3 linked regions of the Homo sapiens genome follow. The protein of the gene in region 2 interacts with the protein of the main gene of each other region in a pairwise test. Each region holds a gene or a part of one and is shown on either strand. Other genes may lie near its edges.

What was found. Proteins that work in one complex are often made in the same cells at the same time.
Region 1: the proteins of LNX1 (region 2) and NXT2 interact in binary tests that used the Homo sapiens proteins (3 or more experiments, as listed by UniProt).
Region 3: the proteins of LNX1 (region 2) and AIDA interact in binary tests that used the Homo sapiens proteins (3 or more experiments, as listed by UniProt).

What each region holds. Positions count from the first base shown.
Region 1 is NC_000023.11:109,539,844-109,545,198, reverse strand, and holds the end of NXT2 (NTF2-related export protein 2), read right to left. Parts: intron 3,725-5,355; coding exon 3,580-3,724; intron 2,693-3,579; coding exon 2,511-2,692; 3' UTR 501-2,510; downstream 1-500. UniProt on the Homo sapiens protein: Regulator of protein export for NES-containing proteins. Also plays a role in mRNA nuclear export.
Region 2 is NC_000004.12:53,581,476-53,588,629, forward strand, and holds part of LNX1 (E3 ubiquitin-protein ligase LNX), read right to left. Parts: intron 1-7,154.
Region 3 is NC_000001.11:222,674,492-222,681,491, forward strand, and holds part of AIDA (axin interactor, dorsalization-associated protein), read right to left. Parts: intron 1,728-7,000; coding exon 1,605-1,727; intron 1-1,604. UniProt on the Homo sapiens protein: Acts as a ventralizing factor during embryogenesis. Inhibits axin-mediated JNK activation by binding axin and disrupting axin homodimerization. This in turn antagonizes a Wnt/beta-catenin-independent dorsalization pathway activated by AXIN/JNK-signaling.

The sequences.
Region 1 (5,355 bases), on a different chromosome or scaffold from region 2:
TTAGTGCTATAAATTTCCCTCTACACACTGCTTCAAATGTGTCCCAGAGATTCTGGTATGTTGTGTCTTTGTTCTCATTGGTTTCAAAGAACATCTTTATTTCTGCCTTCATTTCGTTATTTACCCAGTAGTGTTGACATATTTTTAATGTAGAATTAAATTTAATGAACCATTCTTTCTGGAAATCAACTGTATTTTGGTTTCACTGCCTATCGAATATAGCATTTTAGCTGGTTTCTCAAGGTTAAGATTTCCAACTTCTCACCAAAAACCTACAGGTATCTCAAACAAGTGATGATCTCAGGAATGTGAATAATTGGCAGGAAAAGGAGACAGATGTGGCAGGTTACAGAAAGAACCAAAAGAAGATCCAAGTTGTTAACCATTGTTGTCAACACACTACTGTAATTTTTTTCTAAATTTAAAAAACCTTATATTGTAAAGAAACAAGTAACCATTCTGAAACCTAAGAACAAAAATCAAAAGACCTTAAAACAATCTTGAGAAAATCTGTCACAAGGCAAAATTTTATTTTTTCAAGTTACAAAAATAGGAGCATGTCAAAAATACAGTCTAGTCCTTATACGAGTAGTTCCAGCCATTTAAAAGTTATACAGAGTTTGGAAAAAGCAGTTTATATACAAGTCTTAAAACACAACAATCATGAACAATGCACACCGTTCAATGTAGTTATTGCTAGTTATATGCAGCTTTTAGTTACCATTGTTCTTCTCTGTAAGGGAAAGGACAGCATTTGGACATTCTGATTGTTGCTGCTGAAGCTGTGGTTTTGGAAAATCAATCCAAAATAAGAATAAGCTCACTATGAGTAGAATAAAACGTGTAAGTTTCAATCAGTACTACAAGAAAGCATGGTTTAAATTTGAGTTCCATACAATTCTACATAACTCTATTTTGTTACTATAACAGAAATACAGTGTATAGTTTTGGGCAAGAGTAAATGAATTACTGGTTTTATAATTAAGTGAAAAGAAACAGTTTTTGGTTGCAATGTAGAAACAAAGCTGGCATATCTAGCTTACAAACATTAAAAAATGGAAAAGATATTTAATGTTTAAGCAAAAGCTGAACCTAGGTTATTTACCTTTAGAAATTAAGAGATAAAGTTAAGCATTTTGTTCTTTTGAGGATTATCATGAAGATTTGCTATTCTCTATTTTCTTTTTAAAAAGAAGAGTTATCCACATAGCGGGAACATATTTTGAAACAGATCTATTTGCTCAATGTCATATGGAAGAACAAATCACAAAATTAAATAATTCTACCTTTAAATAATTAAAGATAATGCAGTTGACAGTACAAAGCACTGGGAAAAAATCACTTATTTGGGGGATGTGTGATACATAAGAAACTTTGGGCCTAAAGTTCACATGGAAGACTGGAAGACTTAAAATTTAAGGGTGTCACCAAAAGATAACAATGGCTTTGACTCCAACTCTCATGTTAGACCCTGTTAAAAGGTTAGGTTTATTGCTGTTATTTTACCCCAGTAAGTTATTGAATAAATGGAGATATACATTGGTGATAAGTATGAGGTGAAGTAAAAAGATCTAAAAATATTAGTCTTAGAACAAAAATGACACTCATGATCACTTGGCAAGGATACTTATTTACTTAGTGATTTAAATCCTAAAAATAAGCTACATTTTTAGGAGGTAGAAAACAAGTACCAATAGTTTACCATTTGGCCACCCTCCTTACTTTTGGCTTCAGCCTTGGATTTCTATTTCTCATTCCCTATTCTCCTGTTAAAGCTATTAGTTCTACTACCATTCATTACCTAAATGTATAGACCTGGAGCTGCCAAGAAAAATCTTTTTAGGAAGCTTTGCTTTTAAGCCACCAAATGCACCCAATACTCAGATATCAACTGAGAACGTTTTGCACCTCTCTAGTTGATTAATTTACTTCACACAAAAAAATGCCAAAACAAAAATTACTTAAAATGAAAAACGACCACTGAACATCTCTATATGCAATTCCAGTATGTCAGAGTAGTTATGTAAACCTAAATCTGTACTATTTTCACTGAACTGATTTGAAAAAGCCATATATTAAAATGGCATTACCAGTGTTAACTGAAAACAGGCAACGTGTTTTACTAGAAAATTAACCTAATAACCAAAAAACTCCACTTCTTCCCAGAGTGTTATATTGTGCTGACATCCCATAGATAATATTATAAAAAGATTTTATTTTTGCAATAGGCTGGGTTCACAGTGAGTATGTTAGTACCAAGATCATGTGTTTAATATTATTATAAGAATGTCATTAGTGGAATGTATATAAGGCATGTAAAAAAATAGTTTTAAAGCTCTTAGAGGGCAATGCTCCAAACTGGCAGCTGCTAGAAAAGGTGCTGACAGGAATAGAAAATATTAAAGAAATTTAGTTTCAGCACATATTATAGTGCTTCTACAATCAAAATAATTCACATAAATTTCAATTGCTGGAACTAATGGACCAAATGAGAATGGACTTTTGCCCCTTTAACTACTAGACCAATCTTGAAAACGGAAGCAATCACTTGCAATCTTCCACACAGTATTGTTGGGAGTGGACTGAGCAGTCAGCAGGAAGTTCTGGTTGAAGAAATGTTGTTTGTTTCCATCAAACTTCACAGTTCCACTGGTCACAACAAGAACTGTAGTTTGGGACTGAGTTGCTTGCTCTTCATCCACATTAAAAAAAAAAGAGAACACATCATTTTCTATCTCTAAATAAGCAGATTTTCAGGCTTAAAATACATTGTTTATGGACTAATGCTTAAAATTTTTTTCATACACTTTCTGTCCCTTGAGCATAATCTTAAGCATGCATACTCAAACCCAGAAAACTAAGTACTTAGTAAAAGATATTAAAATTATTTTCAGTCCAGAAAACTTTGGGATACTCTAGTTTCAAAATGAGGAGCTTATATCTAGCATAGGACCATTTGCTTCATATATATATAAATATTTCAGAATTAATATTTCAGGTTTCTAACAGAGCTTATTCATGCTTTGCTTCTTAAACTATTGTTCTTTTCAGGAATTATAAAGGAAAAAAATCACCCTGAACTACAATTTAAGACACTTAGGACCCCACCTAGAGGTTTTATTAAACTGTATCAATCTACCTGGAATCAAATTTTCTTGTAAAAAGTCATCCTTTCACATAACAGAGTAAATTTCTGTGAAATATTAGTAGATTGTAAGATACTGAACACATTAATCAGAGATATGGTATAATTTTACTCTGGAGACATTTCAGGGTCCAGCAGGCAACTATTTAGAGAAATCAGATAATCTTTCCCTGCCATTTACAAAAATCACATTAATCTCAACTTTTCATACAACTTTTAATAAGCCAAAATCACATAATCCATCAAAAGCTACTAGTGGAAAGAATCTGAAGGAAGACCAAAGTTTGACTGGACAGTTACATTTTTCATAATATTTAACTTGCTCAAGTAAGTAAATAGTTCTACCACTAAAAGTTTCTCGCTGCTTTTGGTGTAAAAGCTCAGTGCTTACTAGAGGAAAACAAAGGAAGCATCTTGAAAGATCATGATCTTACCATGAACTGGTTGGCAATCTAACATATTGACCTGGAACTCACTAGAAGGCAATGTGTCAAAAAAATTATTTAGGGCATCCAGCCCTGAAACAGCATTTCCATTCCATATTAAGGTGGCCTTGTCCAGATACAGCCTGGTTAGTGCCTAAAAAGAAAGACAAATTTAAAAAAGGGAAATAATTCTGTTTCTAGATAAACATTTTATAGAAATGGATTAAAATATTACAGATGGTATATAAACATTTTTTGTAGTTCTACCTTCATCTCCACTCCCCTTGCTCCATCTCCACTGGAAACCCATGTGAACAAAACGTCTGTCTTATAATCTTGGCCTTAAATAAATATCACCTTACTCTTTATAAACTAGGCAGTAAAATATATTTTTTCATATTTCACTTTAGACACAATAAAACCTTCCACCCAATTAAGTTCTGCTTTCTGTATTCAAATGAATTAAATGATCACAAATTCCAAGCAAATGCAGCCCCAAGCCAGTTTTAGTGTGTCTTCCTTTTGTAATTATGAGAATTAACAAAGTTTTTGATCAAGCCCTACCTGTACCCTTTAATGCTAGTGGCTATATATATATATGAAACATTTAATATTTGCATGTGTTAGAAAGAATTAGTTCACTACTCCCACTTTTTAGAGAAGAGGTTTATGTTTTCTTAAAAATTATTCTGTTTTTTAAAAAAATTGAGACAGGGTCCTGCTCTGTTGCCTCAGGCTGGTCTCAAACTCTTGGGGTCAAGAAATCCTCTTGCCTCAGCCTCCCAAGTAGCTGGGGTTACAGGCATGTCATACCATGCTCGGCTATAGTACTACTCTATTAGTGTACTTAGTTCAAAAGAATCATGAGTACTTGCTAAAGCAGAGACTTCGATAAGTCAAATAAGTTAAGGCCCAAATGAGGCAGAAATTCCACAGTTAAAACTCTGGGGTCACAAGACACACTATTAGCTTAATTCTATAATGTAACTTGGGTTAAAAGGCCAGGCAGGCATGGTGGCTCACGCCTATAATACCAGCACTTTGGGAGGCTGAGGCGGGTGGATCATGAGGTAAGGAGTTCAAGACCAGCCTGGTCAAGATGGTGAAACCCCATCTCTACTAAAACTACAAAAATTAGCCGGGCGTGGTGGCAGTTGCCTGTAATCCCAGCTACTTGGGAGGCTGAGGCAGGAGAATCGCTTGAACCCGGGAGGCAGAGGTTGCAGTTAGCCAAGATCGCGCCACTGCACTCCAACCTGGGTGACAGAGTGAGACACCATCTCAAAAAAAAATAAATAAATAAAAATAAAAAAAAAGGTCAACACATATATTGACACTGGTAATAAACAATGTTGTCTTTTTTTTTCTACTTTATTTTTTGAAAGCAGTAAGGTACAATACACATTCAAGGCAAGGCACAATAAACATCCATTGTCACAACCCTTTTCCCTGACATCAAATATCAGTACAAGAAACTTCTTTTATCTTTTGCCTTAAAAAATTGGTTTTCACCTGACAAAAACAAGCAATGGGGAAAGGATTCCCTATTTAATAAATGGTGCTGGGAAAACTGGCTAGTCATATGCAGAAAACTGAAACTGGACCCCTTCCTTACACTTTATACAAAAATTAACTCAAGATGGATTAAACACTTAAACGTAACACCCAAAACCATAAACCTAGGCAATATCATTCAGGACACAGGCATGGGCAAAGAGTTCATGACTAAAACACCAAAAGCAATGGCAATAAAAACCAAAATTGACAAATGGGATCTAATTAAAC
Region 2 (7,154 bases):
TACCCAAGACTGGGTGATTTATAAAGAAAAAGAGGTTTAATGGACTCACAGTTCCATATGACTGAGGAAGCCTCACAATCATGGCGGAAGGTGAAGGAGGAGCAAAAACATGTCTAACATGGTGGCAGGCGAGAGAACATGTGCAGGGGAACCGCCCTTTATAAAACCAACATATCTCATGAGACTTACTCACTATCGCAAGAATAGCATGGGAAAAACCCGCCCCCATGATTCAATTACCTCCCCTTGCGTCCCTCCCACAACATGTGGGGATTATGGAAGCTACAATACAAGATGAGATTTGGGTGGGGACGCAGCCAAACCATATCACGCATCTTGTTTTTGATTGAGGAAATTGCCATGTTTGATCATTTCTCTTAACTAAGTGATGATCTTAAACAATTTCTAAATAACTTTAGCTTACTGATCTTGTCTTTATTTGAATACATTTTGATCTTTTGTTCATCATGGATTGTTTGCATTCATTTTGCATTTTTTTAAATATTGCATTCACATTAGGATTACTGAATTTTTCTGCACCTTAAATTTTGCACCTGAAGGTGAGTGTCTCACTTGCCTCACCTTAATTATGACCTTGTCACTGTTAATTTTAGAAACCTAAGAATATCAAAACTGTGGTTTGGATGCAGCTCTGCTACCAACTACTTTTTTGGATCTTGATATTTTCCTTTTACCTGACCTGGTGGCCAGCCAGCTACAATGACAAAACAGTAGAATTACAAACTCTTCCCAGGTGTGCCACTAAACTTCACCCAAGGTCAGAATTGATTGTTGCTTCAGCTGATTGTTACACTTGACAGAGACACACAGGTGAACAGTTTGCTGAAGGGTTCACAAGGCAAGAGGAATGACTCGCTTCAAAGAAGCAAAGAATGTAACCTAGGGCCAGGTCTCACAAAAGATCACAAAACGACCGGATCCTGTAAGAGCTTTGTTTCATGAGTACATAAGCGAGCCCAGTCAAGTAATAAAGAGTTCTCTCCAGCAAGGACACCACATGGAATGTGACATTTTACAAACAGTGTGAGGCTCTGCCCTACTGTATTCATGTTTGCTTTGAATTTTTGCACATTTAAAAGTTATTCAAAATATTTTACTCCCTTCAGCCAACCTCTTGTTTTACAGCATGTTTCAAACACACAAGGGCTAACTCTATATCAGATTATTTCTGAGGTTACTTTTAGCTTCAAGAAAATGAGCTTAAGATTTTTTGTTTTTTTGTTTTTTTTTTAATTGTTGATGATGCTTTAAAATTTGGATTAAGCTCCATGTGGCAGAATGGTTGCTTAGTTTCAAACTGGTCACTGGGGTGACAGCTCAGTGCAAAAATCACCATCACAGTCAGAAACACCATCCTGGACCACGAACAGCAGAAATATACCCACAGAGGAACCAAACAGACCAGCGCCTGCCACTTCTTCAAATGGTGGCCTCATCTCTCTTTCTAAAATAATTCACCCAGCAGGCATGTCTGCCTAACTACTGCCCTGGCCCTAGCTGTAACTCCTAAATCAGGTTACTGGGGGGAAAATAATTGCCAAAGTTAGGGCAAAGTCTATCTTTCTGTATTAAACAAAGTAAATGTACAATTACATTTTAAATTTTAGATAAATTTAGTAAGACTTGACAGGATCGATAATGTGCCATCAAACTCTTATGGCAATTTTATAAAGGCCAATTGTAAATGAACATACACAGAGGATGGGCAGTGTTCTGTGGGCTATTCCTTAGCTTACAGACTCTCATGTAATAGGGAAGAATTAGGAGCATTAATGACCTGGATAAAAATAGTCACACATGGAATAAAATTATCTTCAAACTAAGAACCTGGGTTGGAAGTTTGGGGTGATGTGTCTGTGTGTGCATGATGGGGGGCAAATACACTGCAGAGGAAAGAGTGGGGAGGCAGGTGCTTACAGGCTGCCGCCAAGGTCGTGGTTAGCTCTGCTTCTGCTTAATTTCTAAATCAATGATCTCGAAGAGGGACTAAGCCACTCATTAATGAATCTGTGAATGACATTAGCCTGTATAGTATTGCAAACACCCAAAAATACAGAAAAAAAAAACCCTTTTAAATGGTCTTTAAAGAGGTCAGAAACATGTCAAGAAATTACAGGAGAATTGAACTAAAGGGAGACCATGTAATACATCTGGAGTCAATAAAGGAGGACATAGATGTTCAGAATGTGGGAAAAACAAGGGAAGTGGTTAAGCGAAAAGAGTCCCAAGTGGCTAGACAATTAGACGCAAGTTTTAGAAGTCAGGGAATGCCTTTCATAAGCAGGTTAGAGAAGAGTGTTCCTTCTCTTGACGAGATTTTACCACCTTTCCCCTGGGGTGCCATACTTGGGTTTGTTTGTAAAAACTCTGTAACAGAAAAGATGTCCTTCCATTTCCTAGTCCATAAACATGATGAAATAGAACTGACCCCCTGCAAACAACAACAACAACAACAACAACAACAACAACAACAACAACGACAAATGAAGGCAGAGTATTTTTGCATTGATTCGGAGCTCTGTTCATGCTAGGAGTCACCAAGGATCCCGGGAAGAGCTGATATCAGAGGGGTATGGAAAAGAAGCAAACTGACATTCTTTCATCCAAAGCTGAAAAACAATTTCAAAAAGTGTTTATGTGTGTATGGTTTTTTTTCTGTTGTTGTTGTTTTTTTTAAAACAGATAACCAAGTTTTACAGAGGGAAGGACAAGATGAGGAAAGATATTTGAATTCTCAACATTTTCCGGCTGTGTTTCAATTCTACAGGGGTCATGGCTTTGCCTAATCCATGCCTGGGATTGGCCTTAAACTCTGTGGGAGTTCCTGTAGGGAATTCCATTTCATCTCCAATACATTTAAGTCTAATTATGAAAACAGAGTTTATCCACAGGAAAAAAAATGTAAAAACACTGCAAGAGAATACATAATACATGGCAATGTGTATAATGCCCCAAGACAGGAGCCATGGACAAGCTTTGGAGGAGAGACAATAGAGAGTGCATGTGGCCCAGAACAATCAAGGAAAGTTAATGGGATAGACGGTCCTTGGGAAGGATCACGAATGATAAATGCGATCTGGACAAGTGGGAAGTAATCCAGGTGAGAAGAACCTGAGCAAATGTGTCAATCAAGGAAGAGTAGTGATCTCTTGATGTGACCCATATGACGACCTCTATGTGAGGTTTTAAAATGATTTATTTAGAAGTCATAGGATTTTGATCGGTTAAGGAACTTAGATTTTCACCAAGTAGAAAAATCCTCTTTTCAAGATCCCTACAGCACCTACCAGCTTCTATCTGAAACACTTCCACTGATGGAGAACTGGTCAGTTTTTCAAATAGCTAGTGCTTCCCACGTTACTTTGACCTTTGGCCTTGTTCTGCCTTTCAGTGTAACGTATATCACATTTGCTTACTCAAAACATGACACACACATCCCCAAATTAAAGACAGCATTGGGTGGTTCCTCCCTTGTTTTTATCTTTGTCTTTGGTTCTTCCAATTGTCTTCCTGGGTAGTCCAGATGGTGGTAAAAGATCTACCCAGGATGCCTTCTAGTTTGTTAAGGTCCCTTTGAAAACCCGTACCTGGAAGTGAAGTTATCCTGTTTTGGTTTGGAGGACTCAGGATTCAGTGGAGTGATCACTTCCTTAACCAGGATACTATGTGTTTACTAATGCAATCTATGATGGTTTTTACTGTTTTGTCTTATTAGATATCTCACACTGTTGACTGGAAGAACTCAGTAGGCCTTTAGAGTACAAAACACTTACTACTGTGGCATGAACATAGAAATAAATGAAGGTAGTGATGATGGCTGCCAATTCTGACTCTCCTTGCCTGTACTTTGCTCAGTATTTCAGCCTCCAAGTGGACAAGAAATCTCTCCATAAGTAGTTGGAAGAGCTTGTGTATATGGTTGTCAGCTGGGGATACAGTGGGTAGAATGAGGGTCCCTGCAAAAGATATATCCATGTCTTAACCCCAGAACCTGTGACTATGACCTTACAGGAAAACGATCTAAGAAGGTGTCATGAGGTTTAGGATCTTGAGATGAGATCATTCTGGATTATCTGAGTGGGTCCTAAATTCAATGACAGATGTCCTTAGACACTTATAAGACAGGAGGAGAAGACACAAACGCAGAGGAGAAGGTGATGTGAGGAGAGAGGCAGAGATTGGAATTATGCACCCACAAGCTAAGGAATGTCTAGAGCTACTAGAAACTGAAAGAGACCAGAGAAGACCCTCTCCTGGAGCCTTCAGAGGAGTGTGGCCCTGCTGTTACCTTTATTTCAAACTTCCAGCCTCCAGAACTGTGAGACAATAAATGGGAGTTGTTTTAAGCCACCAAGTTTATGGGTATTTGTTATGGCAGCCCTAGAAATACAGGGGTTACATATTTCCAGGGGTATTCCTGCAGGAATGGGGTGAATGCTCCCAACGATCCTTTCCAACACTTCTCTATAGGGCTTAGAAATAGGGAAAAATATTTGGAGACAGCAGCCACATAGATTGCTACATATTTAGCAACTCTACCCTATTAGAAAATGTATTAATTTCCCTTTAATTCATTAATAAGTTAGAATACAGATGCTTTCAGAGATGACTGTTAGACTAAATTTGCAAAGGGCCTCAAGGGAAAAAAAAAAGGCCACAGATAGAATGGCTGAGTGTGTGTATGTTGTGGAAGATGTAATATAAGTCAGACAATCATATTTAATGAGGAGTCTGAAAACACATGGTGACTCATGTATTCATGCGAGTATGCAGGAGCCTAAACATGCTGCGCTCTATTCAGAAAAGGCCACGTGACTGTCAAAAGCAGTCATAAGCAAGTTATGCAAATCATCTCAGCAGATAGCAATGACATATTTAGACCTCCCCATCATGCATGTGCTATTGTGCCAAGAAGCTATTAAAGAAAATTCTTGGAGAGTTTCGACTCTGCTGCTGGTGAAGTCTTTTGTGTGCCTGTGACAAATGCGTCAAACACAAGAAGCAAATAAGAGTCACTTGAAAAAAATCATGGAGTCTAAGTCCACATATTCTAAGTCACAAATTAGTGATGTTACCAAAAATGTCCCCGGTTAATTGGGATAGAACTTGCTCCCACTGTTAGAAGTGTACTAGTCAGCCTACCATGCCAAGGAACTTGGCTTTCTAGAGCAGAGAGAAGTTCTTTCAGATGGATAGGTGAAGAAGGGCAAAGGCAAAGAGAACAAGAGTAAACAGATGATTGTAAAAACTGCAAATCTCAAATTGGTGGATCATCTTGTCTACCTTCTACCTGAGGCAGAAATTCTTTTTAGAATATAAAATAAAAAATAATGATTATTACTATTTAATGAGCAGTTTGCAATATGCAAGATACTGTGCTGGGTATTCAACATGTTTTTTCATTTAATCTAAAATAATCCTATGAGATCATTAAGGTAATCTTCACTTTACAGATGAGTGTATGTGCAGCTGAAAAACACAAATCCTCTTTGTCATTCATTTATTAATTCATTCACTCATCCAGCAAACATACACCATGCACTAAATATGCCAAAAAAAATGATCACCTTCAGTGACAAGAAACTCAGTATCCCAAAAGGCAACCTACTACATTTTCGGACAACTCTAATTCATAGAAAGTTCTTCCTCTTACTGATCTGAAGTGTGTATCTGTGTAACTAACCAAATAGGTCACTGTGGTGTCCTCATGTCACACAGAACAAAATGGAGGAAAGGGTAAACACAGAAAGTTTACGGGAGACAACAAACGTTTTCTGTTCCTGATTTCAGCTCAGTGTAGTTTTCCACATTTTATGGTTTTTTTATGGTTTTCATGTCAACCCTATTCTTTGGGGATAGTTAATGATTAAATCATATTAACCCAGGAACAGTGACACAGTCTTCCTTCCAAACAGTTTTGAAAAGCCTTTGATACTTTGGAGGCATTGTCAGAGGACAATAAATTTGCCAACCACATAAAAGAGAGTCTATGTAATGTCAGTACATAAATATTAGGAATAGTTGTATGCTACTGGGAAGTCCATGAATACTGAGGCAATGAGGAGGACACACTTTAGAGCATCTCTTATGTGTCCTCGCCTTGCCAGCATCTTACAGACGGCATTTCGAGTAGTCAAGATCGTATCCTGGTCAAGAGAGTGAAAGGAAAAAAAAAGTAGTCAAGATCCCACCAGACCCTATTTTCTCCACTTTAAGTGAGGAATTCAAATATAGAAAGGAAGTCTTAGCCAAGGTCTTGGAGACAAGGAGACAGTGACAGGTGAAGCCAGGAAATCACCGCTCCAGGAAGACCCGCTGTTTACTCACATCACAGAAGCCCACTCCCCACAGGTTTATGAAAGACCAGGCATTTCCACTGGCAGCCACTCTACCCTGGAACTCCAAGAGAAACAACACAATCTTTGTTAACAGGTTTTCCTCCTCTGCCTTTGGGAGCCTTTTGGGAAATCTTTTTTTGCTCAGTCTTTGGCCCTCAACGTACTACCGTTTCCATCATTATTACATCCAGATAGTAGCATGACCTAAGATGTCTAACTGTAAGCAATATAAAAATGTTTAAAATAATATAACAATAGTTAACACTCACTGAACATTTAAAATATGCCAGGCACTTTCCATGTAATTATTTCAATTATTCCTCCCAACAGCTCTGAGTCTGGGAAGTATTTCATTTCCCAGCTGATGAAACCAAAGCAAAGAAATATTAAGGAACTTATTTAGGCTAGCAACTACATGGTAGAACTGGGTCTGATACACAGACCTGTCTGATACTATCAACTATGCCTTCCTTTCAATATTTACAAGTAACACTGTGGCAGGTACCATTCCAAGCACTTTACACATTTCAACCCATTTCATCTTCATGATAACCCTATTACACAGCTGATGAGAGCAGCTTAAAGAATCTGTCCCAGGTCACACAGGTAGCACATGGTAGATCTGGGTTTCAAAAACCCAGGTAGGCAGCCTGATGCCAGAGACCAGACCACTATTCTAAAGCAGTAGCATTGCCCCACCTAGAATGGAATGAATAAGATTGATATTTTCTAGTGAGGCACTACCCAGTCCCCCCAGTCAGTCTGACCTACCCACCTGGACATGCAGCCCACCTT
Region 3 (7,000 bases), on a different chromosome or scaffold from region 2:
TGGAAAGACCTTTAAATCTAACATTATCAGAATCCCCCTGCTGTATTCAAGTCAAAGGACCAAAAATGGACATGAAAATTGCCAATGAAACCCTTCCATCAATGAATACGTTTTTACAAATATTATCTAAATTCTCATTATATTTGTTGTAACAACCTGTTTTATACCAACTAGAAAGAACACTAAGTTATTGTGTATGGTTTTAATTTCCTGGACCCAGGAATCTTCCAGTTTAATCAAATTCAACATGGACTCATTTAATGACTACTCAAGTGTTTATGTATTATTCAACAGATTTGTCTTAGAGAACTTAAAACAATATAGTACATTGATTGTTTCAGTTCTTAAAGATATTTACAAAAACATGTTTTAGTTCAACATGTATGCAAAGGTAACTTAACAGTTACTACACTATCATTAAACATCTTTTTGTTTTGGTGTACATTCCTGCATGAGTTACGCAGTTCTGTAAATGACCTATCAAACTATAATGTAGAGTATATATACTTTCCAGTAGGCCATATATTTGATACCTGATAACATCAGAAGTTAAAGTTTCACAGCATTAATGCTGTGGATCACGGTCTCCAAATAATCCCTCTCTGTGGCAGAATTCCTTTTTATTTTAATTGGTACTAATGAACTTTTGAATCTGAATTTATTTCTATGACTGACAAAAGTTCTCTTCATTTGATTTCAGCCCCTATCTGTTTCTCTGACTTGCCTCAAATTACAGATTAAAGTAAACCACTTGGATTAGCTGTGCAGTTGTTTCTGGATAGGAGTATGACAACTTCATTCTCAATCACCCAATAATTATTTTTAAAAGACTGTTAACTACTTCATAAATAAAGTACTGTATAAAATGTTTGGCAACAATAAAAGAATTCAACCAATGTGGTTTCCCTTTGAAAGACTGAAAATGTTGTTTTTAAGGAATAAATGAACTGCCACACTGGATAGGAGAAAAAAACCAAATCCTAAGAATAATCATGCTTCCTAACCACAGTAACATAGTTAAGGATAAGAAATACTTCACTTGTTGAATGCTCCATAGGATTACATTCAGAGCATGCATACTATGGATCTATCCTTGCTTCCTGTCCTCACTGATGATTCACTTAAGGCCTGATTCTCATCCACCTTTGTAGGACTCTCCAATGTAGACCTCTCTCTTGGACAGGAAGGAGAAGGCCTAATGCAGGAGGAATCGGGAAACAGAACACTGGGCTTTGCAAACAAACCTACACATCTTTGGAAGGTGAGGGACATTCTGTTAACCTGTATCCTAAAGGATGTATCTGCTGTTAAAGATGTGTAGCCAGCACCCCAGATGGGATGTTAAGAATAAAAAGATACACACAAAGAAAAACTCAAAAGCAAAACAATGTAAGTTATAAATAAGAAAATAAGTAAATCTCTCAGAAGTGTTCTGTGAAGAAGTGATGACCTCTTCCAGGGACTTTGCCTCATGATAGAATGAACTAAAATGAGTTGTCACATACATAAGACTCCCCGCCCCACCACCAAAATAAAACTGTCCCAAATGAGAAGCAACATTATAAAATTCACCTGAGAAAAAAAAAGTAAACAGAGTCACTTACCCTTTACACTAACTGTAATATAGGGATCGATGCACTGCCCAGCATCTTTCAAACCAATTTTCTCAATTCTGATAGTGAGTAATGTCATTCCTGGTTCCGATGGCAACCTTGGTAATAAAGTACCTGGCAACAGAGAAAAAGCAATAAAAGCTCCATATCATTTCACAGTAAACATTTTAATGAACACAGAGAAGATACAGCCTTGCTTGTAACTGACTTAGTAACTAGCCAGGCATTATTTTGGTTCCCGAAACTCCCAAACGCTTGGCATTATTTTTCCAAATGTTTAATTATATGTAAGAGAAATCTGCACTTCCATGTCTCATAGTCACCACTAAAGCAGAAATTATTCAAGTCTGGCAGAAATTTAAGTCACTCCAGGAAGCCCAATTATAAATTACCACATAATTAATAATAAACTCACATACATACACTTTGTATATGCTCATTTATATAATATACTTCTCATCTCAATATGAAGTGGTAGAAGAAAAAACTTTAAAAATATTTGTTATATTATCCTAACATTTGAGAAATATAATACCAGAGTTGATCAACAAATGCTTTACTTTTTTTTTGACACAGTGTCTCACTCTGTCACCCAGGCTGGAGTGCAGTGGCACAATCACAGCTCACTGCAGCCTCGACCTCCCAGGTTCAAGCGATCCTCCCACCTCAGCCTCCCGAGTACCAGGGACTACAGGCATTTGCCACTAGTTACTATTGATATAGGAAATAATTTACAACTTAATAATTGTGTATTTAATGGAATAATTTTACAGTCTAATTTCCCATTCTTTTCCTTATGAACACTGAAGCAAAAAAACCACAAAAAAAAACAAACAAAAAAAAACCCATCCGTTGAAATTGCAATGAAGTTTAGATCAATTTTAGAAAGAACCACATCTTTAGAAATTGCTTCTTCCAATCCATCAACTGATATCTCTCAACTTTTTAAAGACTTCTTAATTTTCTCAATAGAATTTTTTTCTTTTCTTCACAAAAGTCTTATACTTCTTTTGTTGGGTTTATTATAAGATACTTGATATTTTCTGATACTATTATAGACGTTATAATATTTCATTTTCTGAGCACTTATTGCTTATTTAAAGAGAGAGGATCGATTTTTTAATAATACCTCTGCTGGCAGGAAGAACTGATTTTTATGTACAGATTTTATACTCAGGAACCCTACTCTCTTATTAATACTAATGACTTATCCATAGGTTCTCTTTCATGTTCTAAATACATATTCATAACATCTGCAAATAAAGGGACAGGTTTCCCCCCCTCTAATTTTTATATTTTATTTCTTTTTCTTATACTAGTACACTGGCCAGAACTTCTAAAGCACTGTTGAGGAAAATAGTTAACAGGAGGCACCCTTGTTTTGTTCCTGATCTGAAAAGGAAAGCTTTCCATTTTATCATTAAATATGACTGAGGCGCTAAATGTCATTACAGCTACCTTTTATCAGATTAAGAATGTTCTGTTCTTGGTCTGCTAAGAAAGTTTTAAAATCATGAAAGAAATTAGAATGTAATTGAAAAATTTTTCTGCATCTCTTGAGATCATGGGATTCTTCTCCTTAATCTGCTAATGTGAATTACCTTGATATATGTATCTTGCTGATTTAACAATATATTCTGAAAAAAAAAATCACTCAATAGTTCATGGAGATTTTCCTAATTATTTTCTGTAATAGTCCATGTATTGGCTATTTATTCAGCCAATCTTCGTATGGCAGTTAGGTTGTTTCTAATATATTACTATTACCAAAAACACCTCAATAGAGAACCTGGTGTATATGTAAGTATTTAAAAAAAAATTTTTTACACATTATTGGAGGTGTATCTTCAGAGTAAATTCCTAGGAACAGGATTGCTAAACTAAGAAAAATTGTATATTTTTGTTGTTGCTGAGCTATTGCTGAACTCTCCTTTAAAGGGACTATTACCACTTTCTATTCCCACCAGTGATAAATGAGCCCATTTCCCTGTTGTCTCAGCAACAGGGAACTGCCATATAAGGCATCTGCATGTCTTTTATCATATGTAAAGTTGAGTATCTTCTAATACATTTAAGAGCTATTTGTATATCTTGGGGTGTGTGTGTGTGTGTGTGTGTGTGTGTGTGTGTGTACTATCTGTTCATGTCTTTTGCCCAATTTTCTAATGTGTTTGGGGTCTTTGTTGTCACAACTTAAAATTTTCTTTATATATTAAGAATATTAGTCGTTTGTCATTTTGATTTTGATTATGGTGTTTTCTGACAGACAAAAGAGACAAGTTCTTTTTATGATAGACTATTTTCTCCCAAGTAAACATTAAAAATTCTTCTACCTTTAGGTGAATCAGTTTCATAACCTGTAATTGTCTAGATCTTTTAGTTGAAATAATGAGGCTGACATTTCTTTCTTCCTTACCAACAAACTTTTTTTTTGCCTGAGAATATAATAAGGTTTAATCTAACTACTAAATATATTTCTAACAATGTAATATGGAGGCAGTGATTCCAAGCTGGAAAGATACTTAATTTATTCAGTTCTTCCCTAATTCAAGGTAGAACATAAAACATTTCATCTCCACCATGAAGGTTCAGTAGTTTTATCTTTACTAAGGAACAGCTGAAGCTATGTGATTAAGACGACAGGTAATAGAGAAAGGTGTATTTCTCAGTGGTTTCTAATGTGCTCTCTCCCTGCCTAGTCAACTCCTACACTCCCTTTGAGTCTCAGTTCTGGCTAGATTACCTTTGCTAAACTCTGTCAGTCCTTTTTTCGTTCACTCATAATATACTGTGTCCACCTCTAACCATGATGATGTACTTTTTTTGGCTCTGTCTTACATGGTGAGCATCCTGAAAGACGGGATGAGTAACTGTTCATTTTTGTATTGTTTTCACTAGTAATAAAGAGATCTTTGTTTTAGAACTCTTTTATCATTTGTTGAATGATAAATGAATTTTACAGTTCTAGAGGTTATTATGCTCTATAAACATGTGGCCTGAAAACATATATCAATGTACTGCCTTATATAATATGCACGAAAGAAGATAAAATACTAGGATAATACCACACCATTCCAGGGTTAGATGAAAAAGTTAACATATTTGTGTATCAAAGATAAAAACATACAATAATTAAAAATCAAGGCAATGTATTAAAAGCAAGATTTCTAAAAGAAGAATGAACACATTCAACTGTATAGAGTAATATGAGAATAAGTAACTACATTTATAAAACTTGAAGACTGTAACTGAAGTAAGAAAAGAAATCATACATGAGCCATGAAAAACTGCGTGTTTCCAGCTAGATCATTTGCTGTTAGATCTAAAGTGAGGATCAGAAATAATAAATGTTCTTCCATATGGAAAAGCTGCATAAATAATAAACAGCCAACTTTTACAGAACATGTCAGGGTGTGCCAGGCACTGTTCTAATCCTTTACATGTACTAACTCATTTAATCCTCCCAACAACCCTATAACACAGGTGCTATAGCACCCTATAACAAGGTGTCCCATTTTTTCAGAAGTGAAAACTAAGACAGAAAAGTTAAGTAATCTGCCCACAATCATATAGCAGTTTGGCACGGGATTCCATGCTTGTAACCACCACACCTCATTTGGCCATTTCTTCATTGTCCATAGAGCCTACACAGGAGCTGTGAAATGACCTCCCCATCTCAAGGTCCTTCACATAATCACATCTGCAAAGTCTCTGTTGCCGTGTAATGTAAGAAACATATGCACAGATTCTGAGGATTGGGATGTGGACATCTTTGGGAAGGGATGCATTATTTCTGCCTCACACTTCTAAATATGAAAAGCTCTGTATGGCTACAACTGTCTAAATCAAGATTTCTCAACCTGGGTTCTGTGGAATCCCAGGGTGTCCCTGAACTCGCTAGGAGCTCCACGCAAAAGAGTGATTTCTATCAATGCACTGCCTTTAAATATGCACTAAAGACAATAAAATACGAGGATAATACTACACCATCTGCAGCCCCTGCAATGGGCTTTGTACACTGAGCAATGCAGGTTCACAGTGATGGAAAGAGACTATGCAGCCCCTATAGCAATTTTATTATAGGTCTTTGAGCCTCATATGGCAGTAAGCAGTTAAGATTATGTTCACTTGACTTGGTCCATTTAGTATTTTTTTTTTCAGGAGACAGGGGAAGCCACTGGTAGCTGATGAGCTCTATACAGCAGTCTGACGTCAGCCTCTTCAGCTTTACCTGCCCCAACCTTCCCTTATGCACCAACAGCTGAAGCAAACATGCTCTACTTGTAGCAAAGAAAACTGGAGGAAATTTTTCAATTCAATGTGATTTCTAAAGAAGAGGTATGAGCTAGGAGAGGAAGGTTCTAAGCCTAAGCATAGAGACAATTCTCCCTAAGTAAAAACAATGAATTTCAAGCTTCTGAATCATTTCACTGCACTAGTGCACTGGGAAAAACAAAAAAGTCCATTTAATGATGAGACCTACTTATTAATATGGTTGTACCTGGATGGATAATTTCCAAGTTGCCTCATCTGTGAAAAACACTTTATCAATGCAGCAATGGATCCAACAAAATCGAGAAATCGCAACTACAAGTCACAACCATTGATAAGTAAAGACACCGATTATTTTGATATCCTAATGGCCATTTAAAATAGAGTAAAGCTTTTTTTTTTTCTAAAGTAATGTTCACTTAAAAAAGGCTCAAAAAGGAAATTACTTAGTAGCAGAGCTTAATGCCCAGAGGAAGAAAAGTCACACAGTGGGCAAGGATCTCATAATGCCTGCATGTGAAATTACAAGACGTTTTTAGCACAAGATATAGTATAAGAAATTTAAAAGGCTCTATTCCCAAACCGCGCAATAAGTGGACACAAGAGATGACTTTTCATATCCTGAAGAGGTTTTGTGATAAACTATAAAAAAAAAGCTTCTCTATTGAGTCTAAAAATTTTACCAATAAATGACATGCTATAGCATTTGTAAGGTCTATAAAGAATGGTGTACTCAAGAAAACTGTTTCTGCTGTGAAGTCCCCAAACAAGCAAAGGCCAAGCTGGATTTCACGCCCTGTCCTCACGTGTACCTCTGAGGAACTGCCCTGGGCTGTACACTGTGGTGTCAAACAGAAAACGCTGACACTGTCAACTCATGGCTTTCTTCACTGAAGTGCTGCTATCAAAATTCTCACAAATAAAATGAAAACTGGTTCTAGGTATCAGAGAAATGGCTAAGTTTATTCAACAAAGACCAGTTCACTCAAGAATGTTTTGAAAATTGGCCGGGCATGGTGGCTTACACCTGTAATCCCAGCACTTTGGGAGGCCAAGGTGGGTGGATTACCTGAGGTCAGGAGTTTGAGATCAGCCTGGCCAACATGGTGAAACTC